Homo sapiens: one gene and its partner. The protein of the gene in region 1 interacts with the protein of each later gene in a pairwise test. Each region holds a gene or a part of one and is shown on either strand. Other genes may lie near its edges. The genes, in order: TLE3 and CHERP.

Region 1 (3,808 bases):
TCATCTGTAACTTGAAAAGTTTGCATGAGAAGCCAAAGGGCTCTTCCAGTTCCAAGATTCAAAGAGAAACTTACAGGAAAGGTTGTTCAGTTCACAGAAAAAGGTGACTGTATTGTGTCGGCACGACACTGCCCCAAAATCAAAATGGCTCAAGTCCACTTTCAAAAATGTCAGTGCTCACCAACAGTGGGTGAAAAGGCTGCCTGACCCAGCTTCTCAGAGAGCCAGTGCCTCAAATCCAATGCATGGCAATTGCTCTGGGGCCCCTGGTTTTAAGCTGGCTTTGTTATTTGTGGCTGACACTGGAAAGCCTCTGCACAAACAAGATGGCAAGTGATGAGCCGGTCAGTCATCACTGCCTTCCCAGACTCTCTGAACCACCCTTGACATTCTGCCTGGAAGCAGGGGGCTTGGTGGAGGTGGGTGACCTCTTGAAGTCCCGGGCCAGGCCTGTGATTCTGTAATCTTTGCTTTACCATAATTAGGGAGGGAGGCAGAAGAGCAGGAGGAGAAACCATTTATTACTTCTCTGGGATTTTGACAGCTTGGAAAAAGAGAGAGACAGAGAAACAGCCAGAGAAGGAGCCAGCCACAGTGAGTTTAACCTCTCAGTAAAATAAAAATGGGCTGGACGCACCTCATCAGCTGCCCTCTGTCAATACCCGGGCCCATCTGGCAGGACTCGAGGTTCCCAGCTAATTGGCATTTCCCATAGAGCCAGCAAAGGAGAGCTTTTAAAAAAAATATGTGGTGGTGATGGTGGAGTGCGTGTGCGTGTATGCGCGCAGGCTGAGGACTGCCACACTTCCCAAGGTGCTAGCTCTATAGATCATCTATTATATAAAAGTACAGACAGTCCCCACCCCCACCCCAGCTTAAAGATGAAGAATCCAGCCTGTTTGTTCCAGGCAGATGTAATCACACGAACAGTCAAGTCTAGAGGGCAGGACACTGCATGAATAATTCAAGCACTCCAGTCACTTGATTGTGTGTGCCGATAAAACACCAGTCAACCGCTAAACAGGTCAGCTGATAAACTTGTTTGCTCAGGCCTAACCACCATTCGCCAAATGCACCCAAGACCCACACTACAATTAGTGGCAGGGCTTTCTTCTACAGAACCCTTGCAAACCTAGGGAGTGGCCAGCTCCATTAGATCAGGGTTGCATTTCACGGCACAGGTTTCTTCACCTCCTTGCCTCTTTGTTCCTCCACAGCCACAGGGTGATTTCACCCAACTCAGAGACTGCCATAAGCTTGCAAAGCCACTGCATTCAGAGCACACATGTTCAGGCTGGGAACTCAGGCTAGAGGGCAAAGGTGAGTGGCAAGCAAGGTAAAGTGCCCAGTGGGGAAGCCAGAGGGCTGGATTTGAATCCCAGCTCTGCCCTCCTGGCCTCCCTGAAGCCTCAGTTTCCTCACCTATAAACAGGGGGCAAAGAATGCCTCTATCCACCACTGGCAGCTGAGAGGATTAAATGAGACAACGTAGCCAAACCCCAGGCATTCTCCCCTTAAGAACCTTGTTTGGGGAATGGCCAGAAATCCCAGATGTACACAGCTGCTCTTTATATAAACCCCACCACCAAATGCGTTAAGATATTTAACTCTTCCTGCGTTCACAGCATCCCCAGGACTCACAGAACAGATCTGCTGCGAGCCAAGGTGGATTCTTAGTGCCAAAGCACCATTCATTCACAGACATGCGGAACACCACCCATGCAGACCTCAACATGCAACGAGACATTACACCTTAATTACCAAGCTCTTCCAATAACTGCTGCTATAAATTTTAAACCTGGGTGCAATTACCCTCTTTAAACACACCCAAGATACTATTTGAGAAAAAAAAAATTAAGACAGGGCAGACAAAGGGAGGAAGTGGCACCCTGCATACACCCCAAGGTCCTTGAAACACCTGGGCCCCCAGTTCCATTTCAAGCATTCTTCCGGGACCTGGCCCCTTCCAGTTGCAGAACCTGTCTCTATTCTATTTTTCCAAGGAGAAATATCTTTACGTATAAAGCCCTGTCTATTATTTCTGTGTGTCAAGAAGTAAAAACATGGTAGCCTTCATGTGCCTTCCTAAGGGACTAACTAATCCCTCAGGAAGCCACAAGCTGGCTTCCCACACATTGCTCAATAAACTCAGGCCCCTTTCTGGCTTCCCTTCACCCAACACTGGGGGCTCCCTCCAGGAGGGGAAAGGAAACTACAGATCCCAAAGGCTCTATAGGAAGCCACCCGAGTGGGTAGGAATCTGCCCACTTTCCAGGGTCACCTGCCCTTCTCACCTGCCCTGGGTCCTGCCTCCTTAAAGAGCAAAATTGAAACCTTGTAAACGACTGTTAATTTAGAGCAGAAAATCCATTCAAGTCACGGTCACCAAAGGCTAGAATGAGTCAACAGCCTTCTGAGATTTCATGAACACCAATTGTTAAAAAGAACAACCGGCCTGCCTGCTCCATTTATACGTGCCAAGTCAACTCTAAACGTTGGCCAAGCCAAATTATAGGCAGCCTTTCCTCAGAACACAAATACACAAACAGGCCTCTCCCACAGCCCAGCCTAGCACTGGGACTAGTTACTGATATGCACTGAGATAAAGGGTGTTTGTATTTGCTCGGTTTGAGGTATACTGTTATTAGAAGAGTGACAATACCAGGTAGTTTACATATCCATCAAACGACACCACACTAGCTAAACTGGTTTGACTTCAGGATTTCAAAGCTGAGCTCAACCCCCAGCCATCTCGAAAGTCCTGGCTAGGCTGCCCCTGGGCAAGTTACTTCACCCAGGAGCTTCAGCTTCCTTCTCTGTAAAATGGGAACTCGGCTGCCTTCAAATCAAGACAGGGATGAGAAAGCCACCTTGTCAATGCAAGGCACTGAAGTTGTATTTCATTCTGGCTTCATATTTTTAAGCAGTTAGTGGCTTCGTTCCCTTAAATTTCGACAGCTCAGCCTGGCTTTTAAGGTTCTTGAAGTTTAATCTTATCAAGGCAGAACATCACATTTCTGCAAAAAGAAAAAAAAAAGGAGAAAGAAAAAAAAAATCCTCCTGCATTTCCTCTTGAGAATTTTACATTAAAACAGATAAAAGCAGCCAGCCACCTCTGGGCTTTCAGGAGTTTGTAAAGCAGATCCTGGAGGTACAACTTTCCCTTTGGTCCTTTATCCTCCACCGAGATCCAAGACCAGGACTAATTTCACAAGCTCAAATGCTAAAAGCTCAACATGTCTAAAAAAAAATCAGCAAAGCCTCAGACCTTGCATTTCAAGGACTGGATCCATTCACTCTTCAAGGAGAAGGGGGAGGAATCGAAGAAGCAGGCTCACTTTCAAACAAGAGAGAACATAAGAAGTCCACATATATAAGTTTTTAAAAAATGAAATATATTTTTAAAAGAGAAAAGCACTTACCTGCTTGTGCATTTCAATGTTCAAGCCATAGGACATCTCATAGTACTAAAAGTAAAAAGAATGGCTATTAACAGACAACACAGAAATCTGGTCATTTTTCAAAATCAGTTTTTTCTTGGAAAGGTTTTGGCCAAATCATACTTTTACGATACATTTGCTAAAGAAGTTTAAATCAAACCCCAAAGCCAGCTTACAGAGCGGTTTAAGAGCTGACAAGGGCGAGCGTTCCTCTCATCTCAACAGAACGTTATATTATGTGGTAGTAAGGGGAGCTGGGCCTTCCCTCCCACAAGCACCACATGTGCCCTATATCCTGTTTATACAAGGTTCAGGTTCAACAGGGAATCGTGTGTACACTGGGACCCTCTTGTCCTCTGAGAGTTATT
Region 2 (3,808 bases), on another chromosome or scaffold:
GCACTCCAGCCTGGGCGACAGAGCAAGACTCCATCTCAAAAAAAAATCAAAAACAAAATCCTTTGCTAGATTCTGCTAAGATTTCCTTCAGTATTTCCGTGTCTTTTTCAGAAGTGACACTAGATTGTATTTTCTGAGACAGGGTCTCGCTTTGTTACCCAGGCTGGAGTGCAGTGGTGTAAATGCAGCTCACTGCAGCCTCAATCTCATGGGCTCAAGTGATCCTCCCACCTCAGCCCCCAAGTAGCTGGGACGACAGGTGAGCACCATTTTTCTATTTTTAGTAGAGACGGGGTTTCACCATGTTGCCCAGGCTAATCTCAAACTCCTGGGCTCAAGCGATCTGCCCATCTTGGCCTCCCAAAGTGCTGGGATTACAAGCGTAAGCCACCATGCCTAGCCAATTATATTTTCAGTCTGTGCATTGTCCTTCCTGCCTGATGTAATAGTTACCCTAGTCTTGGGGAATGATCTGGGTACCTTTCCTCTATTTCTTTTCTCTGGGAACAGGAAACAGATCTTCTGCTGTTCAGGAATGGGATGGTTGTAGTTTTACTCTAGGATCACCTGGCTCGTGCTTGTAAATGGATGAAAACCTGGGCCTAGGAGCAGGCCTGGGACGAGGGAACAAGAACTGAGTCTGAGGGTGGCAGACTGCTTTCTGACTACACTCGGTGCCCAGCCTCTGGGGGCTGTTTCCTGGGGGCAGGCTGAGCTGAGGGAGCCCCGTACCAGGCTGGGTGGTGGGCGGGATGGCAGGGGCAGGTGCTGGGGCCGGGGGTGGAGCAGGCGGTGGAGGCGTGGCCTTGACTTCAGCCTCCATCTGCGGCATCTGGAGCTGCTGCTGCTGCTGTTGCTGCTGCTGCTGCTGCTGGGCCAGGCTGGTGACAAACTCCTCGTGCTGCGTCTTGAGGGTCTGGATCTGCTGCTGGAAGGCCAGCTGCACCGGCTGGACCACTGAGGAGTACTCGTTGATGAGGGTGGCCTGAGAGAGAGAAGAGCACCCGCTGCTCAGTATGCGGCCTTGGGGCTCGCTGCCTGGCGCCAGAGGACAAACGCCTGGAAAGCAGCAGAGCCTGGGGGACCTGGGGCAGGTGGACAGGGAACCGTCACGTGAAACAGCCAACACAGTCTGGGCAATCAGTGTGCGCTGGGATCTGGCCAGAGATTTGGGGATGAGGATGTTCGCTGCAGCGTGTTTTACGACTCCCTGATAACAGAACGAGCAACGACAGCCGTGTCCTGGCCGCTTCGTGGCTGCTCAGCGAACACTGCCCACCAACATTCTGGGACACGCTCATGGGCTCTGCCTCCCACTCGCCATGTGGCTCTCAGCAAGAGGGGCTGCCACAGCCTAAGCCACGTCTGGGCTTCCTCATGCTTCCACCACACCGGAACATGCCTGACCACCAGAGCAAATGGGCCATGTGCAATGACTCCGAAAGGCCGCCTGGTTCTAGTGTTCCAGGAAAGTCAGGGAGACACACCTAAGGCCTGGGAAATGTCACCTGGGACTCTCTGGTCAACACACACTGGCTACTCCTAGCACAGGCAGGGGACATGGGCTCTCTGGCTGCTGGGGTGGCAGCTGCTGTCCCCACACTCCCAAACCCTCCTGGGGAACCCGCCCCAGCTCTAGGGTGAGGTGTGGGTGGGCAGGGACACTCACCTGGTACTGACCAAGCCCCAGGGCTGGGCTCTGTAGCTGCTGAATGATGGAGTCATCGAAGTAGCCGTTTTTCTCCCAGAGCTGCAGGAGCTGGCGGTGGGAGGAGAGAGAGGCCGGGTCAGTGGGGAGGGGAAAGGCCTGTGTGTCCCGGTCTTGCCCAACCCCCGGCCCGGGGCCCACGCACCCGGGCGATCTTCTGCTGCTTGTCTTCCTCCACGGCCAAGAAGCTGGTGCAGTAGATGGGCACCACGACCTTCTGCAGGGCGGCCAGCAGCTCCCGGGCCTGCTTGCGCTGGCTGTGAGGGAGAGACTTTCCGCGCGTCAGGGCCCTGGGGCGGGACCCGGCCACGCGCCCGTTACCATCGCGGCTCCAGCCTCAGCGCCCTCTGCCTTCTCGGGAATCGGGTCCCCAACCCGGTCAGGGCGATGGCTGGGCTCCCACGAGACCTGTGCTGGTGCCTGGGCTCGAGGAAGGGACAGATGGAAAAACAGCAAGCAGGGGAGGGAGAGAACGTGGCCTGGGGCCGTTCTGAGCAAGGCCTTTTGGTCCAGTCCCCTTGATAGGAAATAACCTTCCCTCCTTCCCTCTTGGGTGGCGCTGCGGGTGAAGGGATATGGGCCGGCGGGAGCCCCTGCCTGTGTATGATGGGCGGGATGGGACTGCTGCGGAGTGGGGGTCTTGTCCTTGTCACTCACTATGCACAAGGAAACCTCGGCCCAGGCCAGGCCTCTTGGGAGAAGGAGGGAGGGTGCCCAGTCCCTCAGGAACCTAGAACACTTTAGAAGAGTGACCGGATGCCCAGCGGGGGGAGGCGCCGGGCCCATGTCCTCTCAGGGCTGCTGTGCAGTGCTGCACAGGACACTGTGCATACCTGGCCTGGGAGGCCCCTGCCGCTGCGCAGGGAGATGGCTGCCCCTGGGGAGGGACGCAAGACAGGAGGGGAGCAGCTGGAAGCCCCTCAGCCCTCAGCTTGCCGCAGGGGGCTCAGGGGAGCAAGGGCCTGGGCTGGGCGAGCAGCACTTGGCTTCGGACAGAGTAGAGCTAGAGAGGCGCGTGGCTGGAGAATGCGGGAAACTGTGCATCCGTGCAAGGCACCCGACTCAGAGGCAGGGAGAAATGGAGGCATGAGGAGGAGCAGAAGGGCAGAGCTGGTGCCGAGCCGCAACTCACTTCCCAGCAGGAGAGAAACAGGGACTGAGGTGGGGAGGCAAGAGGGACTCAGGCAGTGCTGCATGTGATAGATGGGGCGAGATGGGTGCTGGCAGCCTGGCCCACTGTAGAGGCACACGAGGCGCCAGGCCAGGACTGCTGCCCGCTAGGCTCAGTAGCAATGCTTGTCTCCTCCCGCACGTGCGGGCCTTTGGCCTGGGGTTCTATTGTTTTTTTTTTCTTTTTTGCTAATTTTTGTGAGAAGGGCCCCAGTGACCCTGTAGAAGGAAATACCCACCCAACCTTGGGGAGGGTGGAGACAGCAACAGTGGGAAGGGTGAGGGCTGGGTGGGGACAGAGGGTCGGCAGATGTGGCTCTGTTGAAGCCTGAGAGATGGGTCAGGGCTGGAGAAGGGGATCCCAAAGGAGGGTCCTGATGGCTGAGCAAAGTCAGGTGACCGCGTGTGTGTGCGTGCAAATCAGTGACGAGGGCAGGAGACAGACACAGAGGCCAAGGAGGCCGTGGCTGAGAAGGCAACAAGGAGACGCCAAGAAGCTGCCCCATGAGAGGAAGGAGTGCAGGGGACAGTGGCCCCCAGGAGACAGCAATGTGACAGGTGAGGCCGGGGTCTAGGGGAGAGGACAGGGCATGCAGCGAAGGTGCACAGGACACCTAGACCTCGCAGTCCTGGAGACAGAAGCCTGGTGGCTCACAGAGACCCCCCACCCGGGGTCCCCGGACAAGTGCCCCCTAGTCTCGGGACAGGCCAAGCCAAGCTACCGACCGGAGCAAGCGGCCACCCAGGAGGGTTGAGGAGGAGCGCGAGGAAGTGGCGCTCTGGGCACGGGGTGGCGGCGCTCACCAGTGGTGCAGCACGTCATTGATCAGGTAGATGAGGTGCAGCCGCAGCTCGAAGTGTGCCCCATCAGCCGTGATGCGGTTCCGGAGGTGGCCGGCCATCAGCTCACAGTGCGGCGGGGACTTGGCA

What was found.
Region 2: the proteins of TLE3 (region 1) and CHERP interact in binary tests that used the Homo sapiens proteins (3 or more experiments, as listed by UniProt).

What each region holds. Positions count from the first base shown.
Region 1 is NC_000015.10:70,091,110-70,094,917, forward strand, and holds part of TLE3 (transducin-like enhancer protein 3), read right to left. Parts: intron 3,681-3,808; exon of another isoform or gene 3,617-3,680; intron 3,468-3,616; coding exon 3,423-3,467; intron 1-3,422. UniProt on the Homo sapiens protein: Transcriptional corepressor that binds to a number of transcription factors. Inhibits the transcriptional activation mediated by CTNNB1 and TCF family members in Wnt signaling.
Region 2 is NC_000019.10:16,528,916-16,532,723, forward strand, and holds part of CHERP (calcium homeostasis endoplasmic reticulum protein), read right to left. Parts: coding exon 3,683-3,808; intron 1,966-3,682; coding exon 1,854-1,965; intron 1,760-1,853; coding exon 1,670-1,759; intron 986-1,669; coding exon 733-985; intron 1-732. UniProt on the Homo sapiens protein: Involved in calcium homeostasis, growth and proliferation.